2 linked regions of the Homo sapiens genome follow. The protein of the gene in region 1 purifies or fractionates together with the protein of each later gene. This does not show direct contact. Each region holds a gene or a part of one and is shown on either strand. Other genes may lie near its edges. The genes, in order: DNHD1 and GCKR.

Region 1 (3,815 bases):
GGACCTGCCTAGCACATCTATCCAGCATGCCGCTGGTGACAGAGAGGGTTCAGAAGATGCAATAGTCTTAAGACTCTGTAGGGGGCTTTTGGGGATTATGTGAGGTGAACCCAAGTGATACTTGAGTTGGCGGACCCAGTGAAAGTCTGTGAGATCACTGACCTGGTGCTGTTCCAGCAGCTGTGCTATATCCCGGTGAGTCACTGCCATGACCAGCAGGGCACTGAGAAGGCTGGTCTGGCGGACAGAAGGCAGGGACTGCCCACCTTGGGAAGCCCTCTGGGCCCGCATAAAATTCACCAGTACCTCAAGCTTGCGCATATGCATGGAGACCATGGCCAGGGTACCCCACTCAAGCAGAGCCTCCTCCATCTCGGCCCGCCATACCACCTCCTCTGCCACCAGCACACACTGCCATGGGAAGGCCTGGACTAAGTCGATCCAGTGCTGGACATACAGTTGCAGGTACAACTTGTTTTGCTTGGGCAGTTGCTTGAGGGCCTCACCTAGAGATGGGCCTCGAGCAAGGCGAGCAGCCACACAGCCCTGCAGCATGTGCACCAGTGCCAAGCGCAGACACTTCTCCAGAGAGGCCAGCCACTTAGGGAGATCTGGATGCAGAGGAAGGGGACCCTGCAGCTTCACCTCCTCCCCACCTGCCCCTAGCACTGCAAGTGCCTCCACCTGAGTCTGTGTGTTTGGGCTTGACTCCCAGTCATCTGTGTTTTTCTCACCAGTTGGGCAAGACCTGAAGCTCACAGCATGCACATGAGGAAAGCAGCGTCGTACCCATAGCTGGGCTTCGCATGATTCCAGTCGAGCAGCCAGCAGGGCTACCAGCTCACTGTCACTAAGGAAGAAGAGGCGGGGGAAGTGAGCACACACCCCATAGAGCACGCTCTCCAGACTCATGATGATGCCCTCCAGCTCCACCGATCCTGCTTGCAGCAGTTGTTGCAGCTGCTGGCCTTGGAAGTAAGGGCTCCTCTCGGCACTGGGCACTACAAGTGACAGAACCATGGGGTCAGCTACAGAGATGCGCATCAGGGTTCGATACTGGTCATCCATGACCTTGAAACGAGAGTTCTGTGGTGAGGGAGAGGATAAAAGTGAGGGCCAATATGAAGTGGCAGCTCCCCTTTCCCACGCTGAGCCCTGCTATTCAGGAACCCTTCTTGCCCTCTCTGCCTCAACCCCCTTCCCTACCAGGTCAGCATTAGGAAACTGGATCTTCATCTCATGCAGAACTTTATTCAGAAAAATCCACTTCTGCTGGAAAGTCAGCCACACCTCCAGCAGGGCACCTGTGTAAGCAGCCAGAGGAATGCTGGTGGGAAACACTAGGGTTCTACCTTCTGCAGGGGAGTCCACCCTGCTCCTGACCTCTCAGGTACCCCACCAGCCCAAGCAAAATACTCTGCCCAGCAGGACTCAGGGAACTTGCTTGAGGGAGAAAAAACTTTCACTGTGAATAAAAACCTGATCTCTTCATCCCAAGAAACAGCCCTGAAGGAGGTCCTCACTGTGTTCTTCATATCTTCTCCCACCCAACCTCCACCTCTCACCCCCATCCCTCTGGGACATCCTGCCTCAGGTCTCACCCATCAGCCTGGCTAGAGGCCTGCACTTACCCAGGCCATGCATGATGGCCACCCACTCCAAAGCTATTTTGTTTAAATCTCCTGACTTTTCGATGGCCAAGATCTTGGACAACACCTGAAGACTTTCCTGGATGGAATCCTGCAGGTTGCTGTAATCTAAGACAGAAAAAGCTGAACTGGCAGTCAGATGAGGCAAGGGCCGGGGCTGGGGGAGAGAAGAGGAGACCAGGGGAACCTTCCAGGAGAGGCAGTTACAGAGACCCTGATGCCCTTTCTGTCTTTTTCTTTCCCTTTTTTTTTTTTTTTTTTTTTTTTTTTGAGACAGAGTCTCGCTTTGTTGCCCAGGCTAGAGTGCAATGGCACGATCTCAGCTCACTGTACTATGCTTCCTGGGTTCAAGCAATTCACCTGCCTCAGCCTCCTGAGTAGCTGGGATTACAGGTGTGTGCCACCATGTCCGGCTAATTTTTTGTATGTTTAGTAGAGACGGGGTTTCACCATGTTCATCAGGCTGGTCTCGAACTCCCAACCTCAGGTGATCCACCCACCTCAGCCTCCCAAAGTGCTAGGATTACAGGTGTAAGCCACCATGCCCAGCTGCCCTTTCTGCCTTTAAGGATTCCATCAGCCAATATGTAGAGCCAGTAAAGCACTGGGGTCTCAAAATGGTGAGAGAAGAAGCTCCTCCTTTCCCAAGGCACTGTGGGCAGACTCCAGGCCAGCTAATTTCCCTGACTAGCTGCTATGAGTATCCACGTAACTCCATGGAAGTGCTTTGTAAGAACTAGAGCCTCTAGCCCGGGAAGAGGGCTGAATGGCTCCAGGACCCTACGTAATATTTCTATAGCAAGAATGCCCATTCTGTCTTAAAACGGGTCTTGGTAGAGAAGCTGAGAACAAACTTTTCTCTCATAGTCTTAGTGCTTGGCTCCCTGGTGCTGCTTAAAGAGTTATCCCTTCATGCCACAAGTGCTTGGTAAGACTAGGGCTGGAAATGAGGTAGGGACACTAATTGGGGTAAAAATGAGAAGAATCAAGAAAGGAGGTTTATTCAGACACATGTAGGACTCTCCAAACATCCCTGGTGGGAAGAAAACTCATTATCCTGCTCTCAGAGTCACACAACTTCTACTCCACTCTCTAGAGAAAACAGCACTGGACTAATGCTTTCAGCCCCTCTGTCTATCTTCTTCCCTTACTCTTCCCCATGTGAGGAGGCAAAGAGGCCCATCTTTTATGCTCTATGGGATATGAGGCAGGCCACAGTCCTCTACACAGCTACCTGTGTAACTGTACTTCAGCTTTTCTCTGCATATCCACACAGACCTCAAGTTCTCAATTAATTGGGGGAAGATTATGACGAGGTAGCACGAAGTCTCACTTGACCTAGATCCAAGCTGTGTCTGCCAACATGATACATAAAAAGCACAAACTTCCTTGGGGGTGATGGTTCTGATAGTATACTTTCATTTTCATATATATCCTTGTCCTCATTTGGTTAAGAATCTAAAGGGGAGATTAATAATTTGTAGGTGTGCCCAATCCTGTAACAACCTGTCTTCTTGAGGTAAGAATTAAATATATAACAAGTCCATCATTTGGGGTTTATTTGGGTGAACGAAGTCACCAGCTTCATGGTGTGTGGCCACTACAAAGATGTGGTCCTTGGTTAACATGCCCGGAGTTAACAGGAAAAGAAAGCCTGGTACAGAGAAAGGAGAGAACCCATAGGGAGAAACCTCAACCACACAAGTGCTTGGTGCAAATGCTAGCTTAGAGAGAGAAGGGAAAACTGAAAAGGAGCAAAGGTGGAGGAAGGGCTGTGAGCTCAGGAAAGACTGGTAGGACCCAGGCTGGTATCTGAAATTATGCCCACAGGCATCCCAAGGCCCACATTATCCAGAGCCTTTACTTTGTATTACGAATTTTTATTTATTACTTTTAGTAGCAGAGAAATCTAAGGATGAGGCAGAAAAGTGGTAGAGATCAAGTAGGAGCAGACTGGCAAAGTGTGGAACCAGGGTCAGAGATGGGCAAATGGATTAGCATAAAATGTGCTCAGGACAAAAGTGGGAAGACAATCTCCTTTCAATCTTGGTGCAAATGTTAACTGCAGACATCCAGCCTTTGTGTCAGTCCACACCAAAACTTAAGAGTCCTTAATAAGGGCGATGTGAACAAGGGGGCTGGGTGCCATTTATCAATGTGCTGCAA
Region 2 (3,661 bases), on another chromosome or scaffold:
TGTCAAAACATGGGGTAGCTGATGTCTAAAATGTACAGCCCGGGGTTTCTAGTGTTTGTTGGGTCCCACCACCAAGGGCTTTCAGCACCTCCAGAGTTCCTTATGTTCCTCTTACAAACACGGGGCAGGGGATGTGACCCTCATTTCATGGTCTAATGCGTGGATGTAGCAGTCATTCTAGATCTTGTCATGTCTGATTAAGACTGCCCTTTTTCTGGGTTTCCTATGTTAGGTACACAACTTCTTCCCTCTTCCCCTGGAATTATCTAAAAGTTCCCACCTCTCATTGTGTGTCTGTGTGGGATTGGAGTGTGTGTGCACGCATGCACACGTGGCTGCATGTTGGTAATGAAAATATAGGGATGCCAGTATAAGGCTTGTGTTAGGGACCAATGAAATGGAGTTGGGGACAGAATTAAAGAAACAAATCTGCTGTTAAGACCAACCCATGCCACCCATCCTATCCCACCTCTGATCTACTGTTTGATTTACTGACTTTGAAAGGTTAACTTTCCAAAATAAGACATTTCATTTTATTTCTGAAATCAGAATAAGTCGGTGAGAGTAGAAACCACTAGGTCGAGAGCAAGAACTCTCCCCCAAAGTGGAGAGAATATTTCTCCCTACCCTGGGCTGCGGATGCCCTGGAAACGGGGCTTCTTCCTCCCACATGTTCTGCTGGCACAAGTCCCCTTGGGCGGGCTGGGCTGAAGTGGGCAGGGTTGGGCCCCTTTCACCCACCCAGAAACATGGGTTCACTGAACGTCAGGCTCTAGGATCTCGAGGGGGTCCGCAGTGCGCTTCTGACCTGGCCCAGCAAGAGCACTCCTGACAGCCTCACAGACAGAAGGAGCTGCAGCCAGGTGTGCCTGAGCCTCAGTGATCGAGCACCGGAATAGGAGGCTCAGCAAGGCGATGGGTATCACCTGTGGGGAAGAGGCAGTGGGCACTGAAGCCTGAGGGAATGAGGTCATCAGAGAAAGAACCCCGGAGGAAGGTCGGGCGCAGTGGCTCACGCCTGTAATCCCAGCACTTTGGGAGGCCGAGGTGGGCAGATCACTTAAGTTCAGGAGTTTGAGACAAGCCTGGCCAATATGGCGAAACCCCATCTCTACTAAAAATACAAAAATTAGCCAGGCATTGGTGGCTGGCACCTGTAATCCCAGCTATTTGGGAGGCTGAAGCAAGAGAATCTCTTGAACCCGGGGGCAGAGGTTGCAGTGAGCCGAGATCGCGCCACTGCACTCCAGCAGCCTGGGTGACAGAGCAAGACTCTCTCTCAAAAAAAAAAAAAAAACAGAACCCTGGAGGAGTTAAAGCATTTGATACAGGAATCAGGAGCCACTAGGTTAGATGCAAATAGGATGTTATTAAGATTAGAAGGTGGTAACAAGGTGGATTAAGAGCAGAAAGAAACCTTCACTTTGACCAGGAAAACTCCTATTCATCCTTCAAAACCCAGTCCAAAGACCCCATGAATGTGGAGGTCCTTGTGAGCAGAGTGCCACTGAGCTTTGTAAACCCAGTGCCGAACAAACTTCCTGACACACTGAAAGTACTCAAAAAGTATTTGTTGAATGACCAGCAGTGGGCAGGATACCTGTTCCTTCTCATGTGCAACCTGGACATGGCAGGAGATGGGAGCAGCCCGAATATCATCTGACAGTGGCTGGGGAAAGTGGATCGCTCGGAGGAGGCTCTCGATGCATCGAGCCTTGGACTGTCCAGAGAACCGCTAAGGAAGAAGTGGTAAGATCAGTGTCAGGCTAAAGGCCAGAGGAACTAAGAATGGAGTCAAGGGAGAAGAATAAACTATGAGAGTGAGAGGCTGGGATCCCGAGGCCTGGCTATAGAGGCTGTAGATGATTTGTCCATGTTGGCAATCCTAAATTGTAATTCCCAGGTGTAAAGAAAAACTAGGTTAAAGGGGTTGGTGGTGGGCTTGACTGGCTGGGTTAAACTGGAGGATTAATGGCAAATTGCTCAAATTTGCATGTGTGTCCCACCAATCCTGTAGGTTGGTAATCTGGACTCCCTCTCTCTAGTTTCCTCTGTAACCAAATCCATCTTGCACACTAATGTAAGACTGTTCATCTGCAAACACTGCTTCCATTTTGTCACTACCCTCCTCTCTGTCTAGCTCAGCATTGTCCAGTAGAAATATAATGCAAGGCTGGGCACAGTGGGTCACACCTGTAATCCCAGCACTTTGGGAGGTCAAAACAGGAGGATTACTTGAGCCCAGGAGTTCGAGACCAGCCTAGGCAACACAGCAAGACCCCATCTCTACAAAAAATAAAACAAATTAGCTGGGCATGGTGGCACCTGCCTATCGTCCCAGCTACTCAGGAGGCTGAGGTGGGAGGATTGCCTGAGCTCAGGAGTTTGAGGCTGTAGTGAGCCGGATGGTGCCAATGCACTGCCCTCCAGCCTGGGTAACAGCGTGAGACCCTGTCTCTAAAAAAAATAAAAATAAAGAAAAAAATATAATGCAAACCACATATGTAAGTTTAAGTTTTCAGTAGCTGCATTAAAAAAAGAAATAGGTGAAATTGGCCAGGCACAGCAGCTCACACCTGTAATCCCAGCACTTTGAGAGGCTGAGGCAGGTGGATCACAAGGTCAGGAGTTGGAGACCAGCCTGGCCAATATGGTGAAATCCCGTCTCTACTAAAAATACAAAAAAAAAAAAAAAAATTAGCTGGGTGTGGTGGCGCATGCCTGTAATCCCAGCTACTCAGGAGGCTGAGGCAGGAGGATCACTTGAACCCAGGAGGTGGAGGTTGCAGTGAGCCGAGATCATGCCACTGCACTCCAGCCTGGGTGACAGAGTGAGACTCCATCTCAAAAAAAAAAAAAATGTGATTTCACCTATTTCTCCTGACCTTGTGATCTGCCCGCTTTGGCCTCCCAAAGTGCTGGGATTACAGGTGTAAGCCACCACACCTGGCCTGAAATCAATTTTAATAATATATTTTATTTAACCCAATATATAACCCAATGTAAACAATATTAAACATTATTAGTCAGATATTTTGCAATATTTTTCTATATTCGGATTTTGTATTTTGAAATCCAGTGTGTATTTTGCAACTAGAGCACACCTCAATTTGTTTTTTTGTGGCTTTTTTTAATTTTAATTTTATTTTTTGAGAGATAGTCTCACTCTGTCACCTAGGCTGGAGTGCAGTGGCACTATCTTGGCTCACTGAAACCTCCACCTCCCAGATTCAAGCTATTCTCCTGCCTCAGCCTCCCTAGTAGACAGGACTATAGGCCTGTGCCAACATGCCCGGCTATTTTTTTATTTTTTTTATTTTTAGTAGAGACGGGGTTTCACCATGTTGGCCAGGCTGGTCTCGAACTCCTGACCTCAAGTGATCTGCCTGCTTCGGCCTCCCAGAATGCTGGGATTACAGGCGTGAGCCACCGTGCCCAGCCAGCCCACCTCAATTTGGGTGCTAGATTTGCAATGCTAAAAAGAGAAATGTAGTCCTACCAAAATATTAAAGTTACATTTAATTTAAAAAGTATACAGCTTTGGTTTTTACATAAAATTAAAAATTCAGTTCCTCAGTCACATTAGCCACATTTCAAGTGCTCAATAGCCACATGTGGCTGGTGGCCAATGTTTTGGACAGCGCAGGTCTAGCTGCATTTG

The links.
Region 2: the proteins of DNHD1 (region 1) and GCKR purify together in Homo sapiens (affinity purification with mass spectrometry; one large-scale study listed by BioGRID and IntAct). This does not show direct contact.

Annotation. Positions count from the first base shown.
Region 1 is NC_000011.10:6,542,063-6,545,877, reverse strand, and holds part of DNHD1 (dynein heavy chain domain-containing protein 1), read right to left. Parts: intron 1,758-3,815; coding exon 1,632-1,757; intron 1,305-1,631; coding exon 1,207-1,304; intron 1,087-1,206; coding exon 1-1,086. UniProt on the Homo sapiens protein: Essential for the normal assembly and function of sperm flagella axonemes.
Region 2 is NC_000002.12:27,520,534-27,524,194, reverse strand, and holds the end of GCKR (glucokinase regulatory protein), read right to left. Parts: intron 1,736-3,661; coding exon 1,601-1,735; intron 927-1,600; coding exon 756-926; 3' UTR 511-755; downstream 1-510. UniProt on the Homo sapiens protein: Regulates glucokinase (GCK) by forming an inactive complex with this enzyme. Acts by promoting GCK recruitment to the nucleus, possibly to provide a reserve of GCK that can be quickly released in the cytoplasm after a meal.